7 linked regions of the Homo sapiens genome follow. The protein of the gene in region 1 interacts with the protein of each later gene in a pairwise test. Each region holds a gene or a part of one and is shown in the gene's direction. Other genes may lie near its edges.

Region 1 (3,500 bases):
CAATTTGTTTATGCATTCACCTGTTGATGGGCATATGGCATGTTTACAGTTTTTGCTATTACAGTGAAAATTGCTGCGAACATTCGTGTACAAGAAGCTTTCTTTTCTCTTGGGTAAATAATTAGTAATGGAACGGATAGAGATTATGTGGTAGATGTGTGTTTAACATTTTGAAAATTGCCAAGCTATTTTCTAAAATACTTGTATCTGGGAGCTAAACAATGAGCATACATGGACATAAAGGGGGAAATGCTAGACACTGGGGACTTCAAAAGAGGGAGAGGAGGAGAGGGATGAAGGTTAAATTAAAAAAAGGATTGGGAGGCCGAAGTGGATGGATCACCTGAATTCGGGAGTTCGAGACCAGCTTGACCAACATGGAGAACTCTGTCTCTACCAAAAATACAAAATTAGCCAGGCCTGGTGGTACATGTCTGTAATCCCAGCTCCTTGGGAGCCTGAGGCAGGAGAATCACTTGAATCCAGAAGGCGGAGGTTGTGGTGAGCCGAGATCGCACCATTGCACTCCAGCCTGGGCAACAAGAGCGAAACTCTGTCTCAAAAAGAAAAAAAAGGAAATAGTTTTATAATTTTACATTCTCACCAGAAGTTTATGAGAGTTCCAATTCCTCCACATTAATGCTAACAGTTGGTGTGTTCGGTTTTGTGAATTTTAGCCATTCTCAGGGACGTGTAGCCATTCTTACAGGTATCTCCTTGTTTTAGTTAGCGTTTCTCTGTTGAGTAATGATGTTAGCATCTTTTCCAGGAGTTATTTACCATCCATATGTTGTCTTTGGTAAGGGGTCTGTTCAGTGCCCCCCATTTTGTGCTAAAATAAATATAACAAAATTTTCCATTTTACCCATATTTAAGGGTACAGTTCGGTGTCTTTAATTACATTCATAATGTTATACAACCATATCACTATTTCCAAAATCTTTCATCACCCCAAACAGAAAGTCTGTACCCATTAAAAAAAAAGAAAAAAGAAAATAAACATAAGTAAACATAGAAAAGGTATATTAAAAATACAGTATAAAAGATAAAAAATGGTACACCTATGTAGGGCAGCTCCATTCTAATCTTACGAGACTACTGTAGTATATGCGGTCCATCATTTACCGAAACATCTTTATGTGACACATGGCTATATACCACTTTTTGTTTATCCTTTTTCTTAAGTTTTTTTGTTTTTTGAGACAGAGCCTCGCTCTGTCGCCAGGCTGGAGTGCAATCGTGCGATCTCGGCTCACCACACCCTCCACCTCCGAGGTTCAAGCGAGTCTGCTGCCTCAGCCTCCCGAGTAGCTGGGACTACAGGTGTGCGCCAGTACACCCAGCTAATTTTTGTATTTTTAGTAGAGATGGGGTTTCACCATGTTGGCCAGGATGGTGTCGATCTCTTGACCTGGTGATCCACCCTCCTTGGCCTCCCAAAGTGCTGGGATTACAGGCGTTGAGCCACCGCGCCTAGCCTATTTATCCATTTTTATCTCTTGATGGACACTTGGGTTGTTTTCACTTTTTGGATATTGGATATTGTTAATAGTTCTGTTGTTAACAATTATCTGTTTGAGTTCCTGCTTTCATTTCTTTTGAATATATATCTAGAAGTGAAATTGCTGGGTCATATGGTATTCTGTTAATTTTTTTTTAATTGTGGTAAAATATACCTAATGTAAAATTAGCCTTTTTTTTTTTTTTTTTTTAAATGAGACAGTGTCTCACTCTGTTGCCCACGTTGGAGCACAGTGACACAATCATGGCTCACTGCAGCCTCAATCTCTTGGGCTCAAGCAGTTGGCCTGCTTCACACTCTTGAGTAGCTGGGACCACAAGTGTGTGCCATCGTGCCTGGCTAATTTTTTTATTTTTTGTAGAGACAGGGTTTTACTTTGTTGCCAAAGCTGGCCTCAAACTCCTGGGCTCAAGTGATCTGCCTGCCTTGGCCTCCCAAGTGCTAGGATTACAGATGTGAGCCACTTGGCCCAGCCAAATTTGCAATTTTAACTGTATTTTTAAGTGTACTGTTTAGCGGCATTAAGTACATTCACATTGTTGTGCAGCCATCACCACTATCCACCTTTAGTACTTTTTCATCATCCCAAACTGAAACTCTGTACTTGATAAACAATAAATTCTCATTATTCTCTTCCCCCTAGCCCCTGTTAACCACTATTCTACCTTCTGTCTTTACATTGACTATTCTAAGTACATCATATAAATGGAATCATAAAATATTTTTGTTTATTTCTACCTCTCTATTCTGTTCTATTAGTCTCTATTTCTGTTCTTATGGTAGTACCACACTGTTTTGATTACTGTAGCTTTGTAGTAAGTTTTGAAATTAGGAAGTGTGAGTCCTCCAACTTTTTCAAGATAGTTTTGACTATTTGGCATCCCTTGAGATTCCATGTGAATTTTAAATGCAGTTTTCTACCAATATAAAAAGTACCATTGGAGTTTTAGTAGGGATTACATTGATTCTGTACATGCCTTTGAGTAATATTGCTGTCTTAACAATATTAAATCTTATGATCCTTGAACATGGGTGTCTTTCCATTTATTTAGGACTTCTTTAACTTCTTTGAGCAGTGTATTGTAGTTTTGCACGTATAAGTCTTTCTTTTTGTTTTTTATTGTTTTGAGACAGGATCTCACTGTCACCCAGGCTGGAGTGCAGTGATGCGATCATGGCTCACTGCAGCCTCAACTTCCTGGGTTCAAGAGACCCTCTTGTCTTGGCCTCCCAATGCTGGGATTATAGGTGTGAGCCACCACACTCAGCCTCCATGTATGTCTTTCAAATTCTTGGTTTTTTTTTTCCCTAAGCATTTTATTCCTTTTGATGCTGTTGCAAATGTGTTATTTTCTTAATTTCGTTTTTAGATTGTTCATTGCAAGCTTATAGAAATGCCAGTGTTTTTTGTGTGTTTGTCTCCTGTAACTGTTGTGTTTATTAGCTTTAACAATATTTTGTGGACTCTTTAGGGATTTTTACAGATAAGATCATGTCATCTGCAAAAAGATAATTTCACTTCTTTTTTAATTAGGATACTTTTTATTTCTTTATCTTGCCTAAGTACTCTGGCTGGAATTTTTAGTACCTGTATTATGTCAAATAGAAATGGTAAAAGCTGGCATCCTTGTCTTTTTCCTGATCTTAAGGGGAATTTTTCCTGATCTTAAGGGGAAGAGTTTTTAGCCTTTGAATCGTTGACTATGATTTTTATGAGTTTTTATATATGGCCTTTATCAAGTTGAGGAAGTTCCCTTCTATTTCTATTGAGTATTTTTATCATGAAAGGATATTGGATTTTGTCAGATGCCTTTTCTGCATCAATTGAGATGATCATAGTGGGGGTTTTCCATGAAGTGGTTTATTACATTGAATGATTTTTGTAGTTGAATCATCTTTCTATTCTAGGAATAAATCCCACTTGGCCACAGTGTATAATTTTTTAAATAGTCTGTTGAATTAGTTTTATTGGGATTTT
Region 2 (3,948 bases), on another chromosome or scaffold:
TTGCCAGGCTGGAGTGCAATGGCGTGTCCTTGGCTCACTGCAACTTCCACCTCCCAGGTTCAAGCGATTCTCCCGCCTCAGCCTCCAGAGTAGTTGGGATTACAGGCGTGTGCCACCACACCCAGCTAATTTTGGTATTATTAGTAGAGACCTCCGCAGGTCCTCTGGCCTCTCCAGACCTCAGTTTCCCCAACTATAAAATGGGGAGAGCAGCCATGCGCCATGGCTAACCAAAGACGGTGTCGCCAGGAACTTAGGAAAAGCTCAGTAAACTGGGTCATCATCACTACATTCCTGGGTCAAAGCTCCCTTGGATCCAAATGGTGGTTCTGGCTGCTTGGAACCCATTACCTCCTCGACAGCTCCCTCTCACTTCAACTTCGGATGAGAAGGGAAAAGGGACGCGAGTGACCAGGGCCAAGGGCAAGAGCAGTCCCCGAAGCAGGAGTGAGGGCAGAGAACAGGGCCCAGGGCGGGACCGGGGCGGAGAGGAAGCGTCAGGACCCCCAGGGTGGGGGGCGAGGGTTGGGAGCCCCTGAGATGAAGGGCGAGGGCCGGAGCTGAGGTGGGGTGGGGTCCCTCAGGGTGTCGGAGGAGGGTCGGGAGCCAGGAGGTGGAGGGCGAGAGCGGGGCCCGAGGCGGGGCCGAGTGGAAGGGTCAGGACCTCCGAGGTGGGGCGGAGGGACAAGGGTCGGGACCCCTGAGGTGGACGGCGAGGACCGGGGCTGAGGTGGGGTGATGGGCAGGGGCTGGGCCAGGGCCAGGCCGGGATCCGGTCGCGGTCAGGCTCCGGGACTGGAAGGGGAAGGCCGGCCAGGCGCCCGCGGCAGACGCCCACACCCCACAGGCCACGTGTGGCCTGGACGCCTGGGACGGCGGAGGCGCTCCGGTGGCGCCCTGAGCTGCTCAGTTACCAGAGCCGTTGGGGCCGATGATGCAGGTGAACCTCCGGAAGGGGCCAATGACCTGGCGGCCCCGCCACGACTTGAAATTTTCCACAAGCAGCAGCTCCAGGTGGGCCATGGCGCCGCCCTCCACGCCTCACCCGCGTTATCAAGCGCCCGCGGAAAAAGCGCGGGAAGGGATTCGCCAAGTGTCGCGAGAAGAGAGCGAGACGCGGCAAGCGCGGAGCCGTTCCTTAGCAACGAGTTGTTGACATTTCCGAGAGAGCGGGAGCGTCTGTACCTCTGCGGCGTCACTGGGAGCCCGACGGAAAACTGCGCTAAAGGCTTGTCTTTCCCCTGCCCGACCGAAGGAGCCGACCTTGCCTGCGCTACAGCTTCCTTATTTTCGTCGCCTGTTCTCCTGATCCTGCGTGTTCTAAAAACCCCTTAGGCTTTCCATGGGTTCCCAGACCATGGCGGTGGCGCTGCCCAGGGACTTGCGGCAGGACGCCAACCTGGCAAAGAGGAGGCACGCGGAGCTGTGCAGGCAGAAGCGGGTCTTCAACGCCAGAAACAGGATAATTGGGGTGAAAGGGCAGGGGCCGGGACGGGGTTAGAGCGGCAGATGCGGGCGAGGGGCTGCGTGGAGGGGGAAAGGAGATGAGTTCTAGGATGAAACATCTGAGCCAGGAGGCAGCAAACGGCCTCCTGCAGGGCCAATAATGCTCCCTCTCGAGCTCGCCTGGAGTCACCAACGGTTCTCCTCCCCTGAGCCAGATTTTCTACAACTCGTTTACAGTGGGGCAGAGATTAAAAATAATAATAAGTAGGATTGTTATTACTGAATAAAATGATCTGGCTCTAACCCTTCTCCTCTGTTTTTCCATTTATAGGGAGACACTGAAGCCTGGGATGTTCAAGTTCATGACCAGAAGATAAAAGAAGCTACTGAAAAAGCTAGACATGAAACCTTTGGTGAGCATTTCCTGAATGCTTATCTATTGGTTTAGGATTGTGTGGCTTTAGACTCCAGTCTTCCCCACCGTCCCCCTGCCCCGCCTTTTTTTTTTTATTTTTTATTTTTTTTATTTAATAGAGATAGGGTCTCACTATGTTGCCCAGGCTGGTCTGGAACTCCTGCGTGCAAGTGATCCTCCCACGTCAGTCTCCCAAAGTGCTGGAACTACAGGCATGAGCCACGGTACCCAGCCCTCCTTTCTTCACATATATAAAAAGTTGTCATTTTCACACTCTTCTTCCTTTTAAATTTCACAATTTCTTGTGCCCAGTTAACTTAATGCACTGATTCTTCTCTTAAAAACAGCTATTGAATTCGAATGTGGATTATAAGAAATAGATTTTAAGGGTATATGTATGTTTTCCTTCATTTTCTTAAAAAACTGGATAGGAAAAGCCTTAAACACAGAAAGACACACACACACACTCACTTGCTCTGCTCAAAAGTTTAAGACCGTCTATGAAGGACAGCTGTTTATACCAGACAACACATATGTCCGGGCTCACACCCTCAAGCTGACTCAGAGACAGACATGATTCAAATCATAGTATTCAAGTACCTTGAATACTGTTATTCAAGGTATTATTATTCCACTTCAAATACAACTTATTTTCCCCTATCGTGTCCAACAATTTCAACAATTGTTGAAATTTCACACTTTGAGAGGCTAAAACTAGAGGATCACTTGAGACCAGGAGCTCCAGACTTGCCTGGGCAACAAAGCGAGACCCCATCTCTACAAAAAATAAATTGAAAAAAAAAAAAAAAAGAAATTTCAGTGTTTTTAAACACCATAAAGATTTTTATAATAGAAAAAAAAGCAGGATACAAAATTGTACATACAATGGGCTGTTATGTTTTTAAAATATTTTAAAATATGCTCAGAAGAAGAAGAGAGGAAATATGCCAAAATGTTAGCAGGGTAATGTTGGAGGGATAGAATTATGAGTAAACTTTATTTTCTCCTTTATACTGTTCTGTATGTTCTAAACATTTTATCTTTTTTATTAATATTTTTAGTTATGAGGTAATTCAATCTTACAAAAACAATGTGACAGGTACATATGTACCCACCATCAGACTAGATGTTAACATTTTGCCAGATTGGCTTCAGATATCTTCAGTGTTTTTTGAGAATTGTGTTTTTTATATATGTGTATATATATATATATATATATAACAACACTGCCCTGCCCCCTACCTCTTAATTTTCCCCTCCTTTCTCCTCAGAAGTGTTTATCATTCCCATGCTTTTTTTTCTATTTTCTTTTGAGATGGAGTCTTGCTCTGTCTTCCAGGCTGGAGAGCTGTGGCGCGATCTCAGCTCACCGCAACCTCCGCCTCCTGGGTTCAAGCAATTCTCCTGTCTCAGCTTCCCGAGTAGCTGGGATTACAGGTGCACACCACCATGCTGGGCTGATTTTTGTATTTTTAGTAGAGACGAGGTTTCACCATGTTGGCCAGGCTGGTCTCGAACTCCTGACCTCAGGTGATCTTCCCGCCTCTGCCTCCCAAAGTGTTGGGATTACAGGCATGAGCCACCAGGCCCAGCCCCCACGCACTATTTATGCTTGTACTATTTATGTATGTATTCATAACAATATAAAATTGTTTTTATGTGTTTTTAAAATTTATGTAAATGGTATCCTATTGAATAGATCCATTTGCAGTATGCTTTTCTTTCATCCAGGCTTGTATTTTTGAAATTAATCAGTGATTTACATATAGAGAGTATTCATTTTAATTGTTTTATGGCATTTTGTTATATGAATTAACTACAGTTTCTTCATCCATTCCCATACTGATGGCTGGTTTAGATTTTTTTTTTTCAGTTGTTTTGTCATTGTGGACACTGCTGCAATGACTGTCCAAGAATTGTGTCCCTAGCACATGTGAAAGGGATAACTAGAAGTGGAATTGATGGATCAAAGGTAGTTTTATGGGATATTGAAAAATTGTTTCGTTGTAAGTGTACCAAGTTACACTCCTACAAGCAGCAAATGAGAGGTTTTTGTTTTGTTTTGTTTTGTTTTTGAGATGGAGTCT
Region 3 (2,289 bases), on another chromosome or scaffold:
CTCCTCTAGAGGGCGATATTTGATTTCTCTCTCCCTTCGCAGCTCTCCTCCCTGTTACCCTGTTCTGGCCCTTGAGTTTCCTTCTTAATGGTTAGGCCTCTGTGGCCTGCACATATGACCCCTCCCTAGACTGATCCTAGGATAGGATAACTTTTCCTTAGCCATGATGGGCTGTCTCCCCATTTCTAACCTGAGTGGTTCCTCCTCTGATTCCATGGACCTTCTCTGGTCTCTGTCTCCTGTTATCTGTGATCTTTCCTCTAACTCCTGGGACTGGGCACTCTTAAGCTTACAGACTTTACTGAAGACCTCAGGGCTTCCCTTCCTTCTTCTGTGTCTCCATCTTATCTTCTTAAGTCAGATTCCTAGGATTCTGAGAGACACTTTAGAGCATATCTTGGTCAAAACACCCACTTTAGAGAAGATGAGCCTGAGGCTTGGCTTTCCCAAGGTCATGCAACAAAGGAGTGGCAGGCAGGTTTGGGATCAGAACCCACATCTTCAAAGACCTAGGCCAGTGCTCCTTTCACTGCCTATTTGTTGAGTCAGAAGAGCACAAGATTTGCACTCAGACACACTTAGAGTCAGTTGTATGACCTGCCATGTATTATATGAATTTAAGCAAACTAATCTCTTTGAACCCCGAGTTCTTCATCTTAAAAATGAGAATAAATGCTTCCAGCATCATTATGATAATTGAGTGAATGGTAAAATGTGCTTAGCATGTTTCTTGGCATATTTTATTTAAAAAAATTTTTTTTTTCAATCAGCTTTCTCAGGTTGAATCTTGGCATGTTTTTTTTAACCATGTAGTAGGCTCTCCATTTAAATTCCTCCCTAATTCTTTTACCTACCTCACCCTTCCCGACTGACTTACCTGCCCTTTTATAACCCTTCCTTCAGGGCTGCCCCCAGTCCACCCTTTCTAGTGACTTCCCCAATTCCTATAAATATCTCCCAAGGGCCATGAGATCCTGATGAGGCCGTAAGGATATTTGTGGAACCCCTTCATGGCTGGCTGCTGACTTTCCATTTTTTCTCTCCCCCTTCCCCCTGCAGCGGTACAGGAGGAGCGTCAGCGGGGAAAGGACAAGGATGGGGATGGGGAGGGGGCTGGGGGAGCCCCCGAGGAGATGCCTGTGGACAGGATCCTGGAGGCAGAGCTTGCTGTGGAACAGAAGAGTGACCAGGGCGTTGAGGGTCCTGGGGGAACCGGGGGTAGCGGCAGCAGCGTGAGTGTTGGGGTCAATCCACTCTCCTTCGTGATGGGGGTTGGGGGAGGCAGTCTAGGTCTGTTCTACATCCCCTCCCCCTCCTTTCCCCTCATAACCTTCCTAACACTACTTGGGACTGGAGGTGCTGCCAAACAAGGTCTTTCAAACATCTGAGGTGGATGTGATAGCTCCTTCTGTCTCCACTCCCCAAACAACCCACTGGCAGAACCATAGGCATGTCCCAAATAAATAATTGTTTGCACTAATGCCAGAAGAGAAGACTCACTTACAGGGATTGGTTTGGATGGGGCTCACAGGAAGACTATATGTAAGGAGGGGGTGTCAAAAGCCTCTTACAAGGGGGCTCCCAGCATATCTCAAAATCTTCCATAACTCTTACCCCCGTCCCCTGCAGCCAAATGACCCTGTGACTAACATCTGTCAGGCAGCTGACAAACAGCTATTCACGCTTGTTGAGTGGGCGAAGAGGATCCCACACTTTTCCTCCTTGCCTCTGGATGATCAGGTCATATTGCTGCGGGCAGGTCAGTGACCTTGGATCCCTTTGACTTCTTGACATTTGACCCCTCTTTGACTTCCCGATCTTTAGTGACCCCAGTGGCCTTACCTTGCGTACCCAGGGAGCCAAACTTGCTGACCTCGCCACCTCTTTTCTCCTTCTCTTCCACTGATGTGCTTTGAATCCCTTGGCCTGATTTCTGGCTCCTGACCCTTGCTGCCCCACCCAGGCTGGAATGAACTCCTCATTGCCTCCTTCTCACACCGATCCATTGATGTTCGAGATGGCATCCTCCTTGCCACAGGTCTTCACGTGCACCGCAACTCAGCCCATTCAGCAGGAGTAGGAGCCATCTTTGATCGGTCAGTGGCCCTCGGCTAGGCTGGCATGTAGATAGAGGGGGTGGGGCTATAGGCTGGTCCGTGTCCAAGGCTGGCTGAGCTGTGACCTTTGAGTGACCTGCAGGTCCCTCTCCAGGGTGCTGACAGAGCTAGTGTCCAAAATGCGTGACATGAGGATGGACAAGACAGAGCTTGGCTGCCTGAGGGCAATCAT
Region 4 (3,500 bases), on another chromosome or scaffold:
GTGCCTCCAAAATTCCTATCTCGAAGTCCTAACCCCCAGTCTCACTGAATGTGATTGTATTTGTAGACAAGGCCTTTAAAGAGGTATTTAAGGTTAAATGAGGCAACACAGGTGATGCAATCTGATCCAATCTGACTGCTGCCCTTATAAGAAGAGGGGATGAGGAAACAGACACACAAGAGGGATGGCCCTGTGAGGACACAGGGAGGGGACACCACCGGCAAGCCCCAGAGAGAGGCCTCAAAAGGAACCAGCCCTGGCAACACCATCATCTCTGACCTCCAGCCTCCAGGACTGTGGGAGAGTAAACTTCTGCTGTGGAAGCTAAACAGTCAACCCACACGCAGCGTCCCTGTCGCCATTTGCACCTCCTGGCAGCTGGTGCAAATCAGCCCAAAGCTAAGTGGCCTTGGCAGGTCTTTGCAGCCTTGGTGGCTAGGTGAGGAGGCCTTTTCTTGAGAAATCAAGAATGTGTCTCTGAAGCTGGGTCCATGAGAAATGGCGATCAGCGTTCACCATGTGAGAAAGGCCCAGACTTGGGAGAGCCGAGACTCCCCAGGGCTGTGGCCTGGGGATTATTTAAAAAGCTTTAAATGTTTTTAATAAGGACTTTCAGCTATTTAAAAAGATTGAGCTAGTACCATGGATTCCAACAACCCTATCATCTGGAGTAAAACAGAGACCATTCTGTTTTACTCAGCCTAGTGACTTAAATGTTAATCTCATTTTTAAAAAATACCTTCACAGTGACATCTAAAATAACATTTGACCCAATACCTGGGTACTGTGGAGAAGTACCCAGGTATTGGGTAGGGGGAGAGCCTGGAATGGAAGTCTCTGCTCGTAGCTCAGCCTGTGTCTAAACCGTGCTTTCAATGGCTGAAAACAGAACATGCATCTGCCTGTGAACTGGCCCCCCTCACACGGTCTTCTCTATAGGGATTTCACCCCTTCCCTACAGTAAGAAAAGACAACTGGCCACAGGTCTGGTAGAATCATGGCCCCAGAGATGATGCCCTAATCCCGGGAACTTGTGCATGTGACCTTATTAGGAAAGAGAGTTTCTGCAGATGGGATTGAGTGGAGGGTCTTGAAATGAGGAAATGATCCTGGGTCATCCAGGAGGGCCCTAAACCCCATCACAAGTGTGCTGATGAGAGAAAAGCAGAGGGGATCTGATACAGCAGCAGAGGAGGCCATGCAGCCAGAGAGGCAGAGACTGGAGCAATGTGGCCACAAGCCAAGGAACACCTGGGGCCACCAGGAGCTGGAAGAAGCAAAGAATAAATTCTCCCCTAGAATGTCAGAGGGAGCATGGCCCTGCCAACACCTTGACTTTGGACTTCCAGCCTCCAGAGCTGTGAGAGAATAAATGTCTCTTGCTTGGCACCGCCCAGCCTGTTATGGCAGCCCCAGGACACCAATGCAGCACCTTCTGTCTAGAGAATTGGTGCAGCCCTGCCTCATTCCATAGATCCCAGGGGTCAGTCCATTCCACTCCCCACAGGGCTTTCTTTTGCTTTATCATCATATTCCTGTGGCAAAGCTCCACAGAAGAACATTTAAAATGCTCTGAGCTCTTCCAGGAAGAAAATACCCCAAATCCAAAACTTCAGCCCGCAAGTTGAAAACTTCAGGGACTTTGTTACTAGGCAGAATGAGTTTCCAAGAGCATGCATGCTTTGCAATCTACTTGCAGATCAGCTCTCTACAGCTCTCTAGGATGTTTTAATATTCATTCTGGGATAGGGGCGGTGGGTGCTGCCTCTTGGTGTCAGTGTAGGCAACCTCTGCATAACCACACTTCACATGCAAGAGAGCAAGACAGCAAGACAAACCTTCCCCTGAAGCTGTTCCCCAGGAGATGCATGTTTCTATCCTGAAACAAACAACTGAAGTTTTCCAATAAGGGAAAGCAATACTATTCACTTGGCCTTACCGTATATCCGTTTTGAAGACTCAGCCCAGTGACCCTAAGAAAGTGTTTGCATGGTGACTGCAAACGTTCTCACTGGCTCACCAATCCCATAGTTTATGCACCTACCAAATGTAGCCAGGGCCACCGAGAACTGTCTGGTCCTGATAAATTTCAGCAGCTGGAAATTCTGCATCGTCCGGGCCAGCGTGGACTTCACAAGGGATCCACAGGATCTGGCAGGAGCTGCCCGTGGTGCTGACCCCGAGAATGCTTTCAAGGCAGGTGAAATTGGCCCCCACCCTACTTTCTGGTGTCCCTTCCTTCCCAGTAGTTTCCAATCACTTCCCTAGGTACAGGGACACCACGGGGGACCACTCTTGCCAGAGCGAGTGGCCAGTTAGTGCAGACCCTTGAGACTGGATCACTGTTCACAGAAGAAAGTCCAGACAGGAATGATCAGCTGCACTGGCCAGGTGGAAAATGAGTCCCTTCCTCCCTGAGGGTGTTTGGATGTTAAAGCCATTTGCATTTTCCTCTCTAGGATTTGGAGGGAATCAGGGCGATGCTGGGGCTGGTGTATGAGGGTTTATGCAGACAAGGCTTACCTCTCCTCACCTCTCTTCCTTACCCTGCTCAGTAGGAAAACACACACAAGAGCTGCCCTCTCATTTTAGCCCAGAGAGAGCTGTGTGGCCAAGAGGGAGCAGGGCAGGGATAGTGCCTGTCTGAGCTGCCTCCTGCCCAGGGGTCCTCCCTACCCCGTCCATCCCTGGTCGCCTGGGCTCCAGGCAGGATTTGGTCCCCAGAAGGCCCCACAGCCCACCTCCCGTGGCAGGCCGTGTTCGCTCTGCCCCCACCATCTCTGTTAATGACTCATCTTTCCATGTTCATCCCTTGGCCCAGGGAGACCTGCAGCTCCCTAAAGCAGGGATGCTGTGGACTGCAGCTTCATGGACCAGCATGTGACATGCTCCCCCCTGCGGTGCCATGTCACAGGGAGGTTGAGGCATGAGTCCTGGGTGCCAGAGGGCAGCACCACTGGGCCTGTGTTGCTGCAGGGTTCCCCACCTCTTGCTCTGAAATGGACCCCCCTGGATAGCCTGGGCCTGGCTCTGGGGCTGGGAATGTAGGTGAAGGGCCGATGTCAGCTGGCACATTAGTGCCCTCCAGGGAAGCAGCCGAGCCTGGTGTCTCCCTCCAGGGTCCTGGTGCAGGGCTTATGCTCCACGCAGCTGTCCTGGTGGCCTCTAGCTGGCTCGGCCCCTAGCACTCTGCTCTCTGGTCCCAGGGGGGGCATCCTCAGCTCTCATTCACTCTCTTCATCTCATTTGCTGTGGGTTCCTCTCAAGGCCAGTCCCTCAACTTGATCAGCCCTGCACAGCATGGGGAGAAGGGTGGCCTAGCCCCTGAGGACAGAGCCCCCCACAACACCATCCCACACAGTGGAGGCCCCTCCCAAAGGGTAGCCAGCCTCGCTGCCCCAAGCATGACCTTTGGGCTACTTCCCCAAAGCACAGGCTCCCCAGAAAGAGGGCGGGCGTGAGCCCTGTAACTGCAAGGCTCCAAGGCCATCCTGCGGCTG
Region 5 (2,966 bases), on another chromosome or scaffold:
TTTCACTGTTCTGAAAAATCCTGTTGTTATACAGTAGAGCTTTATAACCAAAAGCTCTATGGCTGGATTTATTAAAAACAAAAACAGAAAAACAAAACAAAACAAAAATTTGGTCCTAGAAAAAAGGAAGTAAAATATCCATTTTTAAAAAGTTGTATATATTAAACTGGGAGATTGCCCTTTCTTCACATATTATTCATGCATTCTGGTTTATATGATTCAGTTTTGGAGTTAAAAGTAAATTTTCTCTGTCAGCATTGCGTCACTGAGCCATTTTCCTCAAAATTTGCTTTTTAAGAAATAGCCTGTGGGCTCAAGACCTCCCTGCAGTCTGCTGCTGAAGCAGTTGTTCAGAGAGCAAGAAGAGATTATGGGGATAGTCTTTCCATTAACAGCTGCTTTGATAACAGAACAAGAGTCAAGCTTATATGGTAGATGTAAGACAAAACTTGGTATTTTATAGACAATTTTAGGTAAACTTTTATAAGCTAGGCTTTCTTAAACTACATTGCTTATTTGGACCGATGCTGAGAAACTCTTGAACTAAATCTCAATTTGCCCTATTTCTCTTTTCTACTATCTCTGTTGACCCCTTTATTTCCCTTCCCTGATGACAGGAGATTCCCTTTTCCATGAAGCATCTCCTGGTCTGGCCAACAAATAGATTGTTTTTTTTTTTTTTTTTTTGAGTCTCCACAAATGGTCTGCTTTGACACTTACCTTCTACTTTATGAGACAGTCTGCTGCATAGCTGGATTATTATTCCTCCCACCACAGCTCCAGATTCTATTCTGTCTGAAGACAACTGTGTGTCTTCACCCCACAATCTCTGTATCCCCTACAACATACGGCATTTGCTTCTGCATAGTAGGTCCCTAAGTAAGATGAAGAACCTGCATCTGAAAGATTATGTGGTTTGTGCAGGATCTCACCACACAGTCTGGTGGAGCTAGACCGACTATGCAGAATTTGATCCTTAGTCTGTTTTTTGTTGTTGTTGTTTTGTTTTTTGTTTTTTGCTTTGTTACCATACTGCCCTCCCTCTAAGCATTTAAGCATTAGGAGGCTCCCCCATGTCTTTCTGTTCATGGATACTCACATGCCTAAATTTGATTTATTTCTATAGCTAACAGCACAGGAAGAGGATCATGAAGGAAATCAAGAATAATAATCAGATAACCAAAAAGCCATTTATTATGGGACTTGAGAATGTGATTTTTTAAATGAAAGTGATATATAATTTTTAATTCTATCAATAGGTTTACTTAAACTAGTATTACAATAGGATTTTGTTTCATGAAAAAAGATTTCTGCTAATAGTGGAAGAAACTAATTTATAAATATACTTGGTAGCAGAGAGAGAACATTAGCTTGGGATTCAACTGCAGTTGAGCAGTAAAGTTAATAATTGCTAGAAGTTGATTAACATTTTTGCAAAATTGTTTACGGGAGCCTCTAATAGAGATCATATTAATTAAATTTCACTTGTTTTCCCTCCCCTTTGTTACCATCTAGTAGATGTGCTAATAAGCAACAAAATGGACAAATTGCTTGATAGGAGATGCAGCTAACTTGGACTCTTAGAATCACACGGTTTGCCTAGTTAGAATTAACTGAAAACATATTTTTTTAACTTCAACTAGTATTTATGCTTGAACATTGTCATGGAGAAGAACTTGTTATATTTTATAGCAGAATAAACAGAAATAGTTTCATTTCTGTTTTCATTATTTATACATGCTTGTGTTTGTGCTTTTCTCTTTCTTTAAAAGGAAATCATAGGTGGGATGCTGGATATAGAACCAAGACTTTGGAGGAAAGGCATCCGAGAAAGCTTTGAGGATCAGAGGAAAAAAGCACTGCAGTTTGCTCAGTGGTGGAAACCATATGACTTCACCAAAAGTAAAAACTATTGAGGTGTACCTTCCATTTTAAAATTTTTCTTCAGATCCCGTTCAGTTTTATTTCCATTGCATCTAATGAAGCAACTGACCCTCAGGTCACAGGCAGAGAGAGTCACAGCAGCAGACTGCTCTGGGTCAGTGACAACTGTACATCAGGAGATTGTGTTGTTTTCTTCTTCACCTGCTCCTATCTATGGACTTCATTTTAGTCACCATGGAGTAAAAACATATATTCGATGATCTGCTCACATTCCTGCTCTCTACCTACTTCTTGGTATTCCGAATTGTTCAGTTAATTTAGAGAAGGCCTTTTCTGAAGGGATATCTAAAAAGCATAGGAAATCCTTGGTTCAGAGGGAAGTGGGTCTGCTTCATGGTTGTTAAGTCTACTGTCTGGCTTCTTTTGCATTTTTAAAAATAAGACGATTTAATTTTAATTTCATAGGATTTTATAGAAAAGCTCTTAATTTTCTACTAGCAGTATATAGTATCACTTCTATTCTTTTTGTTAAAGGAAAAGGAAATGTCCCCAAAGTATTAAAGAATTAAATGATACTGAAAATTTGTATGATTCAAATTTGTTTTTATTTCTGGATTTTTAAATAGTATCTTTGAATTTTGGTGGTTCTAAAAGTAATTCTTCCAAATAACATATTTTAGGGTTGTTTGGGGTTTGCATGAAAGTTAAAATTTATAGCCAAATCATTGGTTTTGAGTTGTACTGATTGTCGTAAAATCTTAAGTAATGAGAGTTTTTATTTATTTATCTTTTTGTTTTGTTTTTATTTATTAAGACAGAGTCTGGCTTTGTCACCCAGGCTGGAGTGCAGTGGCCCAATCATAGTTCACTGTAGCCTTGAACTCCTAGTCTCAAGCTATCCTCCTGTTTCAGCTTCCCAAAGTGCTGGGATTGCAGGTATGAGCCACCATGCCTGGATGAGAGTATGGGACATTCTGTTGTCCCTTACTTGATCCAAGGAACGTAATTTTTATTTGTTCTCAACTCACACCATAGTCATATTTTGTAAGTATAGGGTTTTTATGTTTTGAGTGCTCCTACTT
Region 6 (3,500 bases), on another chromosome or scaffold:
GCATCTTTCAACAGTAGCATGGAAGCGATTCAAGAAGAGTTAGGAATAGAAGGAAAAATTGGAGCCATTTGCTACATAATTGTAGAAAAGACTTTATGGTGATTTCTGAACATTTCCAATGTTTAAAGACAGTTGGGATAAAACATGGATTTATCATAGCTCCTCTTTTCCAGGTAGCTTGAAATTAGTCTGCATCCTTTTTTAGTTTCTTTGGTTAAATCTGCATTTATCTCTTATTATCTCAAACCACACCATTCTTCCTAAGAAGTTCCAGTGGCAAATACTTTCTAGTCAGCAAGGTAGTTTCACCACACAGTTAATTACGTATAGTTTTAAAGCAGTCTGCTAGTTTCAAGACAGGCACTGTCTGCATTTCCTATGAAGAATTGTTAGACGAACCTAAAAGATTACTAGGTATTCAAGATCAAGATCAATGGAAATTAGATTAGCCAAAACAAACAAAAACCAAAACTCTGTATGTTCTTTACCATCTTTATTTTATTTGTTCTTCACTGACATTTATTATGGCAAGTACTTGTGGTTACTGGTTTATATGTGGGAAAGATAGCAAAGAAAGGGGTGACAGAGGAGGTGGAGAAATGAGGTCAGAAATTGAGCATGGCCAAATGGATAAAATGAGATATGATAGCACCTTTAATAGCCAGATATGAAATTATGTATTTTTCGTGACTGAATTAATCATAATAGTGCTAGTGCCAAAGACATAGGAAAAAATTATCAAAATATCTTTAGTAAATAGTTTGAGAGTAAAGTAACAATATAGATCCCAAAATTATTAGGGTGTTTTGAAGGTAGAACCCTGCATATATAGCTAACATTTTTCATTTCTTATTCTATTCTAATTCATTGATCGTGACTCAAAAAATACAGATTCAAAACTGTTTACTAGTCAGATATGTATGTTCACAACAGTCTGACAAAAATAAAATTAGTGTTCGATATTTAGCTGATATTTAGGATTTGAAATATGCAGTTATCTTCTGTGAATACAAAATTGGCACTTGCTGCTTGGGTATGTGGCCTTAATTCGGCAGTGCCAGCACCCACAAAGCTATTGACTGTTGGGATCTTTGTCCGTAATTAGCATTAGCTGCCACCAGTAAGTTATAGCATTTTGATAATGGCTTAGTGACTGAAGAGTTAGACATCTTATAGGCATAATTATCTTAAACAGAGATTCAAACATTTTAAACATGCTTTTCTACCCCCTAAAAAGGCACATGACTTATTTAATACAAAATTATTTTTAATTGAAGTCACAATGAAATTTTGTAAAGCAAAAAATAGAAAACTTTCTTAAATTTCTCAAACTACTTTGCATTCAGTATGCCATTTAATCTTTTTAACAGTTCTATGACTATCCCCATTTTAATGCAAAAAACTAAATCCCAGAAATTTTAGACTTATACCAGTTACATAGCTGGTATTTTAAATTCTGACTTCAAACCTTAAGTACACGTCCCTGAAGGCTAGAAAGTTAATTATTTCAGTCACTACTTAATGTAATAGAGGATTCCCTGAAAACTGAGCAAAATGTTTTCTTCAGTTCCCTGTATTCAATATCCTAAGCAGTTTATGGTATATAGCCTATTCAAAGGAAAAGAGAGCATGGATAAATTTTAACGTATATTTCACAGGATAGTTTTGATGCTTCTAGATTTTCCTTGATGAAGTGACATAATGAATATATTTTTTATAATTTAGATTAGTTTCTGGATGATACATCAGTCCTAAGTTGACTACCAACTTTGGGGTCTTCATAAGTAACACAGTAATGACATTTGGCACAGGCTTGATCTCTGAATATAGAATTAAGACTGCAAACCAGCTCTGTTTCAGGAATTTAAGTCATAAGAATATATAATCAGGTTGCATCAGAACAGAAAGAATAATTTTATTGCAGCAGAATCTGTCACAGTGTGTAGATGTGAGCATACATTTGAATTGTATACTTACACTCTTATTCATGAAAAAATCTATTTTTAGAGTAAGTGGTTAAAGGGATGATTACATCTCACATGCGCATTTAATCATCTTGTCCACTATAATTTTGCTGTCTGGTCTCAGAAAGGGAAAAAAACTTTGGACAATACTTATTACTTTATTGACTGTGTTAGTTTCTTCTTCTTAAGTAGACTGTTGTCATCTCTTTTCTTTTGAGTCCAATTTTCCTATAGTTTGTTTATGTCAATGGCTCGACAAAATGATAAAATATATTTCCAGAAAGCACATGGATTTGGAACTCTCTCTTGTTATGTTTATATTAGGCTTTATTTTAAAGGCAAGTGAGACTGCTTCAAATAAAACAACTTCAAGCTTCCAAGAAACAGTTAAGAGGAGGCAGAGAAGAGCAGAAACACTTCTTTGCTGACACTTACACTGTTGCCATGGACCTACATAAGCAGTGGGAGAACACAGAGACTAACTGGCATAAGGAAAAGATGGAATTACTGGACCAGTTTGACAATGAAAGAAAGGAATGGGAAAGTCAATGGAAGATTATGCAGAAGAAAATAGAAGAGGTACACTTTAATTTGTTTTGGATATACTGTAATGTTTAAGTGCAGGATGAAAATTCTGTGGGCTGTTTTGTATTGGAAACTGTTTTTGATTTCCTTATTCGACCTAAGAGGTACATTTCTCAGTGACATTTACTAGAACAAAAATAGCATAATCTTATCCAATGGTATTGTAAGGATTATTTTATATCATTGCATGAAAATTAAGCATTTGAAATGTCACTCTATAATGTTTCAACTTATTATTTTCTGGCTAGAGAGCTTTTTTATCAAAAGTGAGGTATGTATTTTGCATGAATTTTCAAATACCAGGTCCAGGAGTAAAATGCAAGAAAGATATACTTGGTGGGACATAGATTAGCAAAATTATAGTTGGGCATTAGAACATAGATCTTTCCTAAGAAGATTTATGAGTAATGTCTATTAAAGGAAATTACATGTTAGATAATGCAGTATAATCAAAAGGAGTATCATATATCAAACAGAAAATGGCAGTAGACATGAGATTTATTCTATCAAGGTGTGCACATTTAGTGGCATATTTATTGGAAAAGGAGTTATGAAAAATGACATATCACGACTCTGACACAGTCATTTTGTTCCCGTTAACCCTCCCTCAGTCCGTTGACCCTGAAATATTTCCTTCAAGCATTTGCATTGATGTATATTCAAGCTTTTGCACCAATTGGAAATAATTTATGCTTATCTTGCTTTCTTTTGGTAACATCCTTAGTATTGACTTTATATGGTTTTATGCACATTACCAAAGTTGTTATTTTAAGACTTCTTGGCCTTTTTTGCAGGCAAAGTAAGTGCTTTATGTGTTTATAGTACAGTCATGTTTCTTATTAACAGCCATGTAATTGACTGTGAATAAAATATGAATTGGCATAGTAGGAAGAAAGCTGAAGAAAAGTAACTATTAAGCCCTTCCTCTAAAATAGAGCTGAGAAGGCAGGC
Region 7 (3,500 bases), on another chromosome or scaffold:
AGAGCATATTTTTAAATGGCATCACTTTTTGGCTATTACTATTATTTATATCTTCCTTTCACATTTAATGAAGAGAAAGATTGAAAATGCAACCTAAATCTGTCTTTCCCTTCAGAGAGCCTTTGCTAATGAGAAAGGACTGTTGCATCTAAATTTTGCTTCATTTAAAGCATCTGATGGATAGTCTCTAACAGACTTGAAATATGTCTCAGGAAGGAAGGGACAAGTACAAAATTGTTTTTATGATATGAAAATATATTAATATTTATGGAAGTGAGCAGAGCAGGATTTGCTTCCTTTGTGAGAAGAAAATCATATTAAGGATTTGCTTTTTTTTTTTTTTTTTTTTTTTTTGTGAGAGGGCTTTCCGGCAAAAACCAGAAAGCCTGCTAAACAAATTTTAAAAGAGCTATGACATTAAGAATTTGTTTTTGACAGCCATAATCTCTTAGAGCTTTGGTTTCTATAATTAAGTTTTTCTGAATAAATTTAATTAAAATCTTAGGGGAAAGATGACTAAGGACTTTATTCAGTTTAACATTTTAAACTAAAGAATTGTTGGCTGGGTATGGTGGCTCACACTTGTATTCCCAGCACTTTGGGAGGCCAAGGCAGGAGAATTGCTGGATGTCAGGAGTTGGAGACCAGCCTGGGCAACATGGTGAGACTTTGTCTCTATTTATTTTTTTAATCTAAATGAATGAATGAATGGTTGCTTTCTTTACTATTATTTTTTTACTGATCCCTTGTACTTCTTCTGTATCCATTGTTCAGTTCAACACCTTGCCTCTTCAGTGACTGAAAATAAAAAGTGAATTACTTTTTACATTAAAATAATACATTCCTGATTTTTTGTTTTTGTTTTTGTTTTGTTTTTACTTTATTTATTTATTTTTTTAAGAGAGATGAGGGCCTTGCTTTGTTGCCCAGGCTGGTCTCGAACTCCTGGACTAAAGCAATCCTCCCACCTCATCCTCCCCAGATGCTGAGATTACAGGTGTGAGCCACAGTGTCTGGCCATAAAATAATACATTTCTTAGAGTAGTAAGAGATTAAGCCAAATTTGCCTTCACTGTGTCCTAAATGGACACTTTACTGGGAAACATTTTGGTATTTTATTTTTACTGCTAGGTTTACCAGTTTTAGAATGTTCCTAATAATAAGAACAGTTATTTTACTTTTAATCTTTGTGATTTCTGGAGAGAACTGAAACCTAGGTTTTGTTAGATTCTTTCTGAAATATTTATCTAAAATACTTTAGAACTGCAGAATCTTGTTGGTTTTTGTTTTTTGTTTTTTTGTTATTGAGACAGAAGCTTGCTCTGTCACCCAGGCTGGAGTGCAGTGGCGCTATCTCAGGGCATTGCAACCTCCGCCTCCTGGATTCAGGCAGTTCTTTTTTTTTTTTTTTTTTTGAGATGGAGTCTTGCTCTGTCTCACAGGCTAGAGTGCAGTGGCGCGATCTCGGCTCACTGCAACCGCCGCCTCTCATGTTCAAGCGATTCTCCAGCCTCAGCCTCCCAAGTATCTGGACTACAGGTGCGTGCCACTGCATCCAGCAAATTTTTTTTGTATTTTCAGTAGAGACGAGGTTTCACCATGTTTGTGAGGCTGGTCTTGAACTCCCAACCTCAGGTGATCCGCCCGCCTCAGCCTCTCAAAGTGCTGGGATTACAGGCGTGAGCCACTGTGCCCGGCCTCAAGGAGCTCTTATGCCTCAGTTTCCTCAATAGCTGGGATTACAGATGTGCATCACCATGCCTGGCTGATTTTTGTATTTTTAGTAGAGATGGGGTTTCACCATGTTGCCCAGGCTGGTTTTGAGCTCCTGGGCTCAAGTGATCCGCTGGCCTCAGCCTCCGAATGTGCTAGGATTACAGGCGTGAGCCACCGTGCCTGGCCCTTGTTTTTTTTTTTTTTTTGAGACGGAGTCTCGCTCTGTCACCCAGCCTGGAGTGCAGTGGCGCGATCTTGGCTCACTGCAAGCTCCGCTTCCCGAGAATGGGTTCCCGCCATTCTCCTGCCTCAGCCTCCCGGGTAGCTGGGACTACAGGCGCCCGCCACCATGCCCGGCTAATTTTTTTGTATTTTTAGTAGAGACGTGATTTCACCATGTTAGCCAGGATGGTCTCGATCTCCTGACCTCGTGATCCGCCCGCCTCGGCCTCCCAAAGTGCTGGGATTACAGGCGTGAGTGCCTGGCCCTTGTTTTTATTTGAGCTTAAATTAACAAAGAAAGATCTCTGCTTCAAGATTTGTCTGCCAAGTTCATGTTTCAGATCTTGTATTGTGCTAGGATTTACCGAGGAGCATTATGGATCCTGGGAGAATACTGTAGTACCAAGGAAGACATTCAGAGTGTGATGACTGAGATCCGCAGGTCCCTTGGAGAGGTATGTTTTACTTTAGTAAATGTTAGTTTATATGGTAATTTTTCCTTTAGGAAAATCTGACTTTTTATAGTGATTTGCTTACATTATTTACACTTCTGAGTTAGATTTTGTTTGAACAAAATGTTCTGTGTTTATTAAAAAAAAAAAAAAAAAAAAGAAGCAGTAGCTTGTAAAATTCTGCTTTAGCCTGTATTCTGAAGGAAGAATGCCTTAGAGTAAGTCTGACTTCAGAATATTTATGCAGTAAAACTGACAGTATTCTTCATCCTAACAACCTTATGGTAGAATAGAAAGAACAGTGGACTAATTATCAGGAGACCTGACAATTAGTTCTAGTCATTGTTGTGTCGACAGTTAGCTGGAGGACCTTGAATATAAGTTCCTCAACCTAACTTGACATCAGTGTTTTTCACCTATAAAATAAATTAAAATAGGTAATGATTAAATACTCTTAGTGCTCTTATATTAGGTAATGGACTGGTATTGAGTAATAAATACATAATAGCCATTCAGTTAATTTAAAAGTTAGTTGATGAGGTTATTATGTACAAATAAGTCGGATTTATTTCATTTTAGAAGGATGAGTACTGTTTTGGTTAAAATTTCAAGGAAAGGAATGAAGAAGAGGAATACGACTTAATGACCATCTGCTTTGTGTTAGACACTGTCCAATGCATTTTTCTATTAGGTAAAATGTGTAGAAAGAATTAAGATTTCCACTTAGCAGATTAAGAAACTGAGGTCCAAAGTAGTAAGTGGCAGAGTGAGAATTCAAACCCTGGAATATCCATCTCTGAAGCCCCTATTCTACCTACTACATTATCCTGGGAAGGAAATAAATTGAAAGCAGAGTTCCCAGTTCCAAAAATCCCATTAGGGTAATGCCTTTTTTAGAGAAACAATCAAATATTTAAAGATAATTTTGCTTGCTGTTGATACTATTACTAAAATGATGTTTCCAATTGACTTTTAGATCCCAATTGTAGAGTCAGAAATAAAGAAAGAAGCTGGTGAATTAAAACCTGAAGAAGAAATAACTGTAGGGCCAGTTCAGAAATTGGTTACTGAAATGGGTACCTATGCAACTCAGAGTGCCCTTAGCAGTTC

Evidence for each region.
Region 2: the proteins of TRIM37 (region 1) and RIBC2 interact in a two-hybrid assay, tested with the Homo sapiens proteins (one large-scale study listed by BioGRID and IntAct).
Region 3: the proteins of TRIM37 (region 1) and RXRB interact in binary tests that used the Homo sapiens proteins (3 or more experiments, as listed by UniProt).
Region 4: the proteins of TRIM37 (region 1) and UBASH3A interact in binary tests that used the Homo sapiens proteins (3 or more experiments, as listed by UniProt).
Region 5: the proteins of TRIM37 (region 1) and CWF19L2 interact in binary tests that used the Homo sapiens proteins (3 or more experiments, as listed by UniProt).
Region 6: the proteins of TRIM37 (region 1) and KIAA0408 interact in a two-hybrid assay, tested with the Homo sapiens proteins (one large-scale study listed by BioGRID and IntAct).
Region 7: the proteins of TRIM37 (region 1) and COPB1 interact in binary tests that used the Homo sapiens proteins (3 or more experiments, as listed by UniProt).

The regions. Positions count from the first base shown.
Region 1 is NC_000017.11:59,096,881-59,100,380, reverse strand, and holds part of TRIM37 (E3 ubiquitin-protein ligase TRIM37), read left to right. Parts: intron 1-3,500. UniProt on the Homo sapiens protein: E3 ubiquitin-protein ligase required to prevent centriole reduplication. Probably acts by ubiquitinating positive regulators of centriole reduplication.
Region 2 is NC_000022.11:45,412,545-45,416,492, forward strand, and holds the start of RIBC2 (RIB43A-like with coiled-coils protein 2), read left to right. Parts: upstream 1-1,148; 5' UTR 1,149-1,342; coding exon 1,343-1,471; intron 1,472-1,533; exon of another isoform or gene 1,534-1,682; intron 1,683-1,777; coding exon 1,778-1,859; intron 1,860-3,948. Other genes in the region: SMC1B (structural maintenance of chromosomes protein 1B), read right to left, coding at 915-1,023. UniProt on the Homo sapiens protein: Microtubule inner protein (MIP) part of the dynein-decorated doublet microtubules (DMTs) in cilia axoneme, which is required for motile cilia beating.
Region 3 is NC_000006.12:33,195,377-33,197,665, reverse strand, and holds part of RXRB (retinoic acid receptor RXR-beta), read left to right. Parts: intron 1-1,059; coding exon 1,060-1,232; intron 1,233-1,629; coding exon 1,630-1,759; intron 1,760-1,963; coding exon 1,964-2,096; intron 2,097-2,199; coding exon of another isoform or gene 2,200-2,211; coding exon 2,212-2,289. UniProt on the Homo sapiens protein: Receptor for retinoic acid. Retinoic acid receptors bind as heterodimers to their target response elements in response to their ligands, all-trans or 9-cis retinoic acid, and regulate gene expression in various biological processes.
Region 4 is NC_000021.9:42,427,902-42,431,401, forward strand, and holds part of UBASH3A (ubiquitin-associated and SH3 domain-containing protein A), read left to right. Parts: intron 1-3,500. UniProt on the Homo sapiens protein: Interferes with CBL-mediated down-regulation and degradation of receptor-type tyrosine kinases. Promotes accumulation of activated target receptors, such as T-cell receptors, EGFR and PDGFRB, on the cell surface.
Region 5 is NC_000011.10:107,325,860-107,328,825, reverse strand, and holds the end of CWF19L2 (CWF19-like protein 2), read left to right. Parts: intron 1-1,772; coding exon 1,773-1,916; 3' UTR 1,917-2,466; downstream 2,467-2,966.
Region 6 is NC_000006.12:127,452,890-127,456,389, reverse strand, and holds part of KIAA0408 (uncharacterized protein KIAA0408), read left to right. Parts: intron 1-2,288; 5' UTR 2,289-2,408; coding exon 2,409-2,543; intron 2,544-3,500.
Region 7 is NC_000011.10:14,475,812-14,479,311, reverse strand, and holds part of COPB1 (coatomer subunit beta), read left to right. Parts: intron 1-2,296; coding exon 2,297-2,393; intron 2,394-3,366; coding exon 3,367-3,500. UniProt on the Homo sapiens protein: The coatomer is a cytosolic protein complex that binds to dilysine motifs and reversibly associates with Golgi non-clathrin-coated vesicles, which further mediate biosynthetic protein transport from the ER, via the Golgi up to the trans Golgi network.